Homo sapiens: one gene and its partner. The protein of the gene in region 2 purifies or fractionates together with the protein of the main gene of each other region. This does not show direct contact. Each region holds a gene or a part of one and is shown on either strand. Other genes may lie near its edges. The genes, in order: CYRIB and POU2F2.

Evidence for each region.
Region 1: the proteins of POU2F2 (region 2) and CYRIB purify together in Homo sapiens (affinity purification with mass spectrometry; one large-scale study listed by BioGRID and IntAct). This does not show direct contact.

What each region holds. Positions count from the first base shown.
Region 1 is NC_000008.11:129,839,081-129,842,632, forward strand, and holds the end of CYRIB (CYFIP-related Rac1 interactor B), read right to left. Parts: intron 3,126-3,552; coding exon 3,062-3,125; 3' UTR 513-3,061; downstream 1-512. UniProt on the Homo sapiens protein: Negatively regulates RAC1 signaling and RAC1-driven cytoskeletal remodeling. Regulates chemotaxis, cell migration and epithelial polarization by controlling the polarity, plasticity, duration and extent of protrusions.
Region 2 is NC_000019.10:42,087,217-42,091,034, forward strand, and holds part of POU2F2 (POU domain, class 2, transcription factor 2), read right to left. Parts: 3' UTR 1-3,818. UniProt on the Homo sapiens protein: Transcription factor that specifically binds to the octamer motif (5'-ATTTGCAT-3'). Regulates IL6 expression in B cells with POU2AF1. Regulates transcription in a number of tissues in addition to activating immunoglobulin gene expression.

The DNA of each region.
Region 1 (3,552 bases), on a different chromosome or scaffold from region 2:
AGATGTGCCTTTCACCTTCTCCCATGATTGTGAGGCCTCCCCAGCCACATGGAACTGTAAGTCAATTAAACCTCTCTTTCATAAATTGCCCAGTATTGGGGTATTTATTAGTAGTGTGCAAATGGACTAATACACTGGCTAAGTCCATGCCTACCCCCCATAATACTTCACTCCAAGGACAGACATGAGAACTACAGATAGAGTTGGCAGAGAAGATGCCTGCTTGCTCTCTTTGGCTATCTGACTGGCAAGTACTAGCTCTGAGGTTGAATCATCTTTTGGCAGCAGAGCTGTCTCCTTTGATCACACTGCAGCCCTCAGCTTCAATCACACTAGGTTCTCAGATAAACCTACTCTTGGATCTAGTGGAAGGAGAGGAAAATTCTTTCTGGAAAGGGCCAGATAGTAAATATATTTTAGCTTTTGAGGGCCATATGGTCTTTGTCACAACTCAATTCTGCTGCTGTCATGCAAAAGTCTCGATAAATAATGTGTCAACAAATGAGTGAGGCTTAGGTTCCAATAAAATTTTATTTATGAACACTAAAATTTGAATTTCATATGCTTTTCTCATGCCACAAAATATTATTCTTTTGATTGTATTCAACCTTTTTAAAAACCATTTTTAGCTCACAAGCTGTACAAAAACAGACGGTGAGTAAATTGGCCCACAGACCGGTTTGCTAGCCCCTGGGCTTAAGAGATCTGTCCACTTACTCCTCAACATGCAGAGTGTGAACTGTGTGAACTGCATAGGCCACAGCAATCTTACTGCATCCATTCCCGCTGCATCATTATTTTTGATTTGTATTCATTCAGTCCACCGAAGCATTCACTTGGCACCTCTCCAAATCTGGGTACTGTGCAAGATCCTTCCTTGGGACACTGAAGGAAAATCAGACACGGCCCTTCTCTCAAGTTCGCAGACTCTCCGGTATCCAGATACTACGGCTCTCATAGTATCAGAAAACACAGCCACAAGCGCAGGTAAGTATCAGAGGTGTTTTACGAGATACATGTATCAGATTCTTAAGGCTGCTGTACCAAAATACCACAAACTGCATGGCTTAAAACAACAGAAATTTATTCCCTCACAATCCTGGAGGCCAGATGTCTGAAATCAAGATATTGGTAGGGTTGGTTCCTTCTCGAGACTCTGAGGGAGAATCTGTGACATGCCTGTTTTCCTAGCTTCTAGTGACTTCCTCCAATTCTTAGGGTTCTTTGGCTCATAGATGCATTGCTCTAATCTCTGCCTCCATCTTCCCATGGCCTTCAGCTCTGTGTGTCTATTTCCCCTTCTTTTCTAAGAGCTAGTCATTGAATTTAGGGCCCACCCTACTACAGGTTGATCTCATTTCCAGGTCCTTGATTTCATCTGCAAAAACTTTTTCCAAATAATGTCACACGTGGAGATTCCCAGTGAATGTATCTCCTGGGGGCCACTATTCAGCCTATTACACTATTCTTAGAAGATGCCTAGAAGGATATGGCCAATGTTATCCAGAAGGCTTCATGAAGGAGGTAATAGAAGCTAACCCTTCAAAGATGAAAGTTGGCGTTCATTAGAGGGTCACAAGGGGAGGAAGGGAATGTCAGGTTCAGGGACCAGCCAGACCAGAGCTAAGGAAGTGACATCACATGGAACAATTTGTGAACAGCAAGCAGTAGGGCCTGGCTGCAGGACAGGGTGTGAAGTGGGGGAGCAGTGATCAGGAGGGCCAGAGAGATCAGCAGGGATGTGATCTTGAGAAGCTGTGTGTGCCATGATCTGGCCCTATTAATCCAGAAGGGTCTGATGGAAGCCTCTGTGATTCTCTTCCATGGTTAAACATTTTAATTGTATTATACCTCGGATATTCCTAAATATTTAAAACACTGGCATGGTTGAACTAGACAACCTTTAAGTAGTTTGTTCCAACCATGAGATTTAGATTTCATGATTTAGGTTTTATGATCTTAAACTGAAACCTGTTAGTTTTCTACCACTAGTGAGATCATGGCCTCTGCTTTTCTCCTGGGAAGTCCCTCTTATAATCACTCTCTTCCCATGATTAAAGGGCTACTCTGCCTTCATGTTGCTACCCGCTCCCCTGGAAATGGAGAATCAAGCAAGGATGCGGTTTTCCTTCCATTACTACATCCATACAAGAGTAAATCAAGAATAAAAGTCCAGTTAATGAAAAGATCACTGGTCTTAATATACTTAGCAAAATTTTAAAGGCAATTAAAAGTATATACATAGACAATGATCAAAATTCTAATGAAAAGACCCGGCTCTCCCCTAAAAGAAGAAAAAATCATGTAATGTATATATGCATTCCATAAAAACATACATGGGGAAAACTTCAGAAGCCTAAAAACAAAACATCAGTAAACCAAGCCACACTTAGAAAAATGAAAGCTGATTTTTATTTTATCATCAACAGCCATTCTTTAGACATGAACATGCATACGTAATATTCTACGCACACATCACAGCTTTTAACGTTAGTTAATAAAGGTTAAACACACAACATACATCCTTACAAAAAAAGTCAAAATGCAAACTTAAAACTTTAAACAAAAGTATTACTAATTTAAAAAAAGTTTGTGTTGGGTACCATTTGTACAACACAGTTAATTTAAACATTTTCATTTTGGTTGCACATGAAAAAGGCGGCAGTAGAAAATAAAGTCATTGAGGGTTTTTAAATAGCAGAATAGGCAGTTTTGCCATGCAGGAGAAGCAATATTAAATATTAGTTTCAAAAAAAATCCACATTTAAAAATATTTAGTTCAAGTCACAGAATTTTTCTCAGTAGAGACCCCAATGCAATGCATAATTAGCTGCCTTAGATGGCCCGTTTGAAAGGATGATATCCCTTCAGAGTGTAACTTTACTGATTTTGGCACAGAAAAGAAGTCTTAAGAACATGATTAAAAAAGAGGGAAGAGGAACAGAGGAAAGAAATAAAAGCAAGAATAAATGAGATAGTAATTGCAATCACTAAAAAACTGCATTCTCAGTCATTGCAGAATACTGTCTTCTGTCTACAGCAGGTGCTTATTCCAGAATTGTTATTGCAGCATGGATTTAATTTGCTTGGAGGTAGTCTCATCATTCAAATGTTTTGTTGTGTACCTAAAAAAAGAAAAGAAAAAAGATCAATTTTAGGAACTTAAAAAATAATCAGCATCGGGTTCTCTAATTATGACAGGATGGAGAATTGGTCTCAGCAAAACTCACAAAATTATGGCTTCTCATTGTAGCTTTAACCCTGTTCAGGTTCTGCACAGCCTGTCATCCTCACCCCCTTTCTAACTGAATAGCCAGTAGCTATTTAGCAGCTATTTAACTTAGTTACAACTACACTGCTGAAATGATTGGTTGACCTCTCAAGTAAACAATTAGCTGTAACTTCTCCCTCAGAAGAAAATGCTGTTCTATCCCAGAGGCTGGCAAATTATAGCCCATGGGCCATCCAATCCACCAATTTTTTTGTGGACTGTGAGCTAATTCTATTTTTTAACCTTTTGGATGACTGGGGGGCAAAGGAAGACAAAAAAAG
Region 2 (3,818 bases):
TTTCCCACTCAGAGACCAGTGGGGGCCCGCGTGTCTCAATCTTGCTGTCTGTCTCACTCTCTCTCTCACTCAGGTCCCCCTACCCTGGGCTAGAGGAAGAGAGAGGCACCCTGGTGTTCATGTGGGTTAGAAAAACTAGTCAGGTCAAGAGGTCACCCTGACTTGGCTAGTCCCTCGCCAGATCTCCCCAGGGCTTGGAGAGCCCGTCATGGCCTTCTCCAGGGAGATGGATGGAAAACTCATATCCTTCCCCTCCTCCTGATCTCAGCCCCAACTCCTACTGGGGCTTGGGTTCCCCATCCCTACCCACCCCCACACACACACCCACCCCACCCCCCAGAAGAGAACAGAGAGAGGTGGTTTAGTTACTGGCATCAATTTTTTTTTTTTTTTTTTTGGCACAATGAAAAGGCCCACCATTAGGGTAGACCCAGTCTCTGTCCCTCCCTTAAGTAGGAGGTCAGGGTTGGGGAGAAGAGAAATTCAGAGGGCTCCCCACTGCTCCAACCCACTCATCTCTCCTCTCTTTCTAGCCCAGGCCCTTGGCCCCCAACCTCGGACATCTAACCTAGCCCATAGCCTAGCCTGGGGTTGCCCTCCCCATCCCCCACATAAAGCTCCCCAGCCCTCCAACTCTCTCGCTCATACACAGACACACGGACACAGGCTCTGTACAGACCACAAAATAAAAACGATGAGATAGTTTTGTTTCCCGGAGTCGAGACGGGGGACCAGAGTGTAAGGGGCAGATGGGGGTGGGGGGCATGAATTCCCCCATCACCTTCCCAACCCTGGCTCCCTCCAGCCCCCCAGCCCCTTGCCCTGGCTGGCCCCCAGCCAACGATATTTGGTTTCCTTTTTTTAACATTAAAGTTCTATGAGGTATTTGGTGCCTTATCTCGAGTCCTCAGGGGAGGGGGGCCCAGGGGGAGACCTGGGGCTCACCTGCCCCTCCCTCCCTCCTACCCCCTTCCCAATATTTGGTTTCACAGCTGTAGTTAAAGCTTGGGATTTGGTTATTTTTCCCCCTCCCAGGAATTTTTTTTTCTTGTTTTTCTTTTCCTAGGTGTGAGGGTTGGATGGGGAGGGTCCCCAGCACCCCCGGCTGCACAGGGGTCCCTCCACCAACATCAGGGCATCTGCCCCATCCCTGCCCCCTGCTCCTCCTCTCCTCTTTACCCCACTCCCACATACTGGGGTGGGGAGAGGTCCCAGGTGGTGGGACTTGATGGGGAGGAAGCAGGATGAAGTGGGTGGTGGTGAGTCCTGGATTTTCTTTCCTTTTTTTTTTTTTTTTTTCCTTTTTGGTCTAGAATCATAGTTTTTGTTTGAGTCATCTCCACCATGCCTTCCATGCTGCCTGTCTTCTCGGAGGGGGTTTTTGGTTGTAATTCCTTTCATTTTGCTCTGCTCAAATGTCCTTCCTATTTGGTCAGGAGCCCTTGGCCCCCTCTCCACCCTTGGGCTGGGGCCCAAGCCCTCTTGCCAGTCCCTTCTCTCTTCAGGAAATAAACATGGACAAACTCAGAGGTAGGGTAAGGGCAGGGAGTCGTTCAGCGGAGATGCTTACATTCCGGTGAGGTTGGGTAGACGAGGTGCCAGGCCCCATCGTGCCGGGGTGGGAGGGGCGGCTACTTCACCACTGCCCGGACAAGGCACCCAGAGGCCCCTGCAATGGCCGAGTCTCTGCTGCCTCCGTCGCCCAGCCCAACAGTTTCATTTCCCGGGTGGGAGAAGGGAGACAAGGAAAAAAGAGAACGCTGAGGCCTGGAGCTCCATCTGCCTCTCCTCAGAGTGTCCGGCAGAAAGTGGAAGCTGCCCAGGCCAAAGCCCTGCGGTCTCAGGGCTCTCCTCTCTCTCTGCTCCTGCCCAACAAGGGGCAGGGGCCACACTACGGCTGTCAGGCCCCACCCTGATTTCAATGGCTCGTGTCCTTCACTGCAACACTTTGGTTTGAGGAGAGACACAGAAAGAACAAGATTGAGAGAGAAGAGAGGAGAGCAAAGGGAGAGAGAGGAGACAGGAAGGAGGAGAGGAGAGAGGAAGGAGGGGAGGAGAGAGGAAGGAGGGGAGGAGAGAGGTCAGACAAAAGAGAACCGAAAAAGAAATCAAAGGAGGAATCAAACCACCCAAAAGTTGTTAAGTTTTCCTTCATCTGTTCTTTTTGCTTTCTTACTCCTTTTTTTCCTGTCTTTTTTTAAAGCTTTTTCAGTTGATTTGGGAGGGGAGTTTGGGGCTCTTCACCCCTGTCCCTGATACCCTCTCTCAGCCCCGCCCACCCGCTTCCATCTGCCCTGGCCGAGGGACAGGCCCTGCCCCAGCCGCCCCCTCCGGCTTTCCCAAAGACAACGTCCATGAGGTATTTGTGAAGAGAAAGAAGCATCCGTCCTTCCATCCGCCTTGGGGAACAAGGGCCTGGACCACCGGTGCAGGGGCTTGGCTCCGCCTCGCGGTTCCATCTTATTCTTGAAGAGTCCTCATCTTCTTTCCCTTTTATATATATATATATATATATGTTTATATATATATATAAATTTTTTTTCTAGTTTAAATTTATTGTTTGTTTGTTTCTGTTTTTTTGGTTTTCGGTTCAAAACTTTGTTGGCCTCCACAATAGCAGGAGGGCAGGGTGGCTCCCAGTGGTGTCTCTCCTCTGTCCGTCGTCAGTGGAGACGTGTCCGGGGCTGGTCAAACACAGGGTCCAGCCAAGAGTTGTGGAGGTCTTGTGGGAGTGGTGGCCACCACCGCGCCCTCTCAGATGGGGACCACAGGCTGTGGCACTGTCCCCACCACATGGACCCTGATGGGGATGCCATCTCGAGGAACCCCACCACTGGGGTGTGTGCGTGCGTGCATGTGGGGGGAGGGAGAGGCATTCGCCAGTACCAGAGGGGCACAGGGTGGGAAAAGCGAGGTGAGTTCTCTTTTTGGTTTCTGGTTAATGTCAAAGAACGTGAAGGATCCCACGGATAGGCACTGGAATATGAATTTTTTTTTTTTTCAGGGAAACAGACAGGATGGAAAAAGACAACTGAATGCCCTCAACTGAATGTCTTCATCCCCTCTTGCCTGAAATTTCCACCTTCCCATAGGCTGGGGAGGGAGTCAGTTCCAGAGCAGAGGAGGGTGACAGGGTTGAGGAGGGACTTGTGAGAGCTAGAACTTGGCAAAATGGCCTAGCCCACCCTTCAAAGGGGAAAAGAGGGAGGAACAGGGGATGAAAAGTTGTCCGCAGGCCTTCCCTTGAACTCTCCCCTGCTGGGGGGAGGGAGGAGGTTAAAGCAAGACCCCCTGCCCAGGTGGGGAGAGCTGGGGGCCAGGGGAGAAGGGGACACATGGTAGGGACACATTCTGTTGAGCACAATGCTAAAAATTCTGTACATCCTTTGGATGAAGCTACTGAATATTTGGTGTAAGGTTGTTCAGGCCCTTTCTCTTTCACCTTCTGGAAAAGAACATTTGGTGGGTGGTGCTAAGCCCCAGCCCATCTGCCCAGGCTGTGCCCTGTCTTCGCTGGCCCAGGGCTGGGGGCTGGGATTAGGAAGCTGGCATCTTCTCTTTTTCCTTCTGTAGCCCCCACGGGGGAGGCAGGGTTGGGGGTTGGTCCCACAGCCAGGGCTCGGTGGCATGAGGTCTGACCTGCTGGAGGCTTCTCCGCCCCTGGCTGGGGTTTTTATTTGGCGTCGTAGCAGTGAGGGTGAGCACGCTGAGGTCTGGCTCGCGACTGGTTTTTTGGTTTGTTTGATTTTGTGGGTTTTTTTTTTTTTTGGTTTGTTTTTGGTTTTTTTTTGTTTGTTTTTCACCTCTGGTTCCTTTGG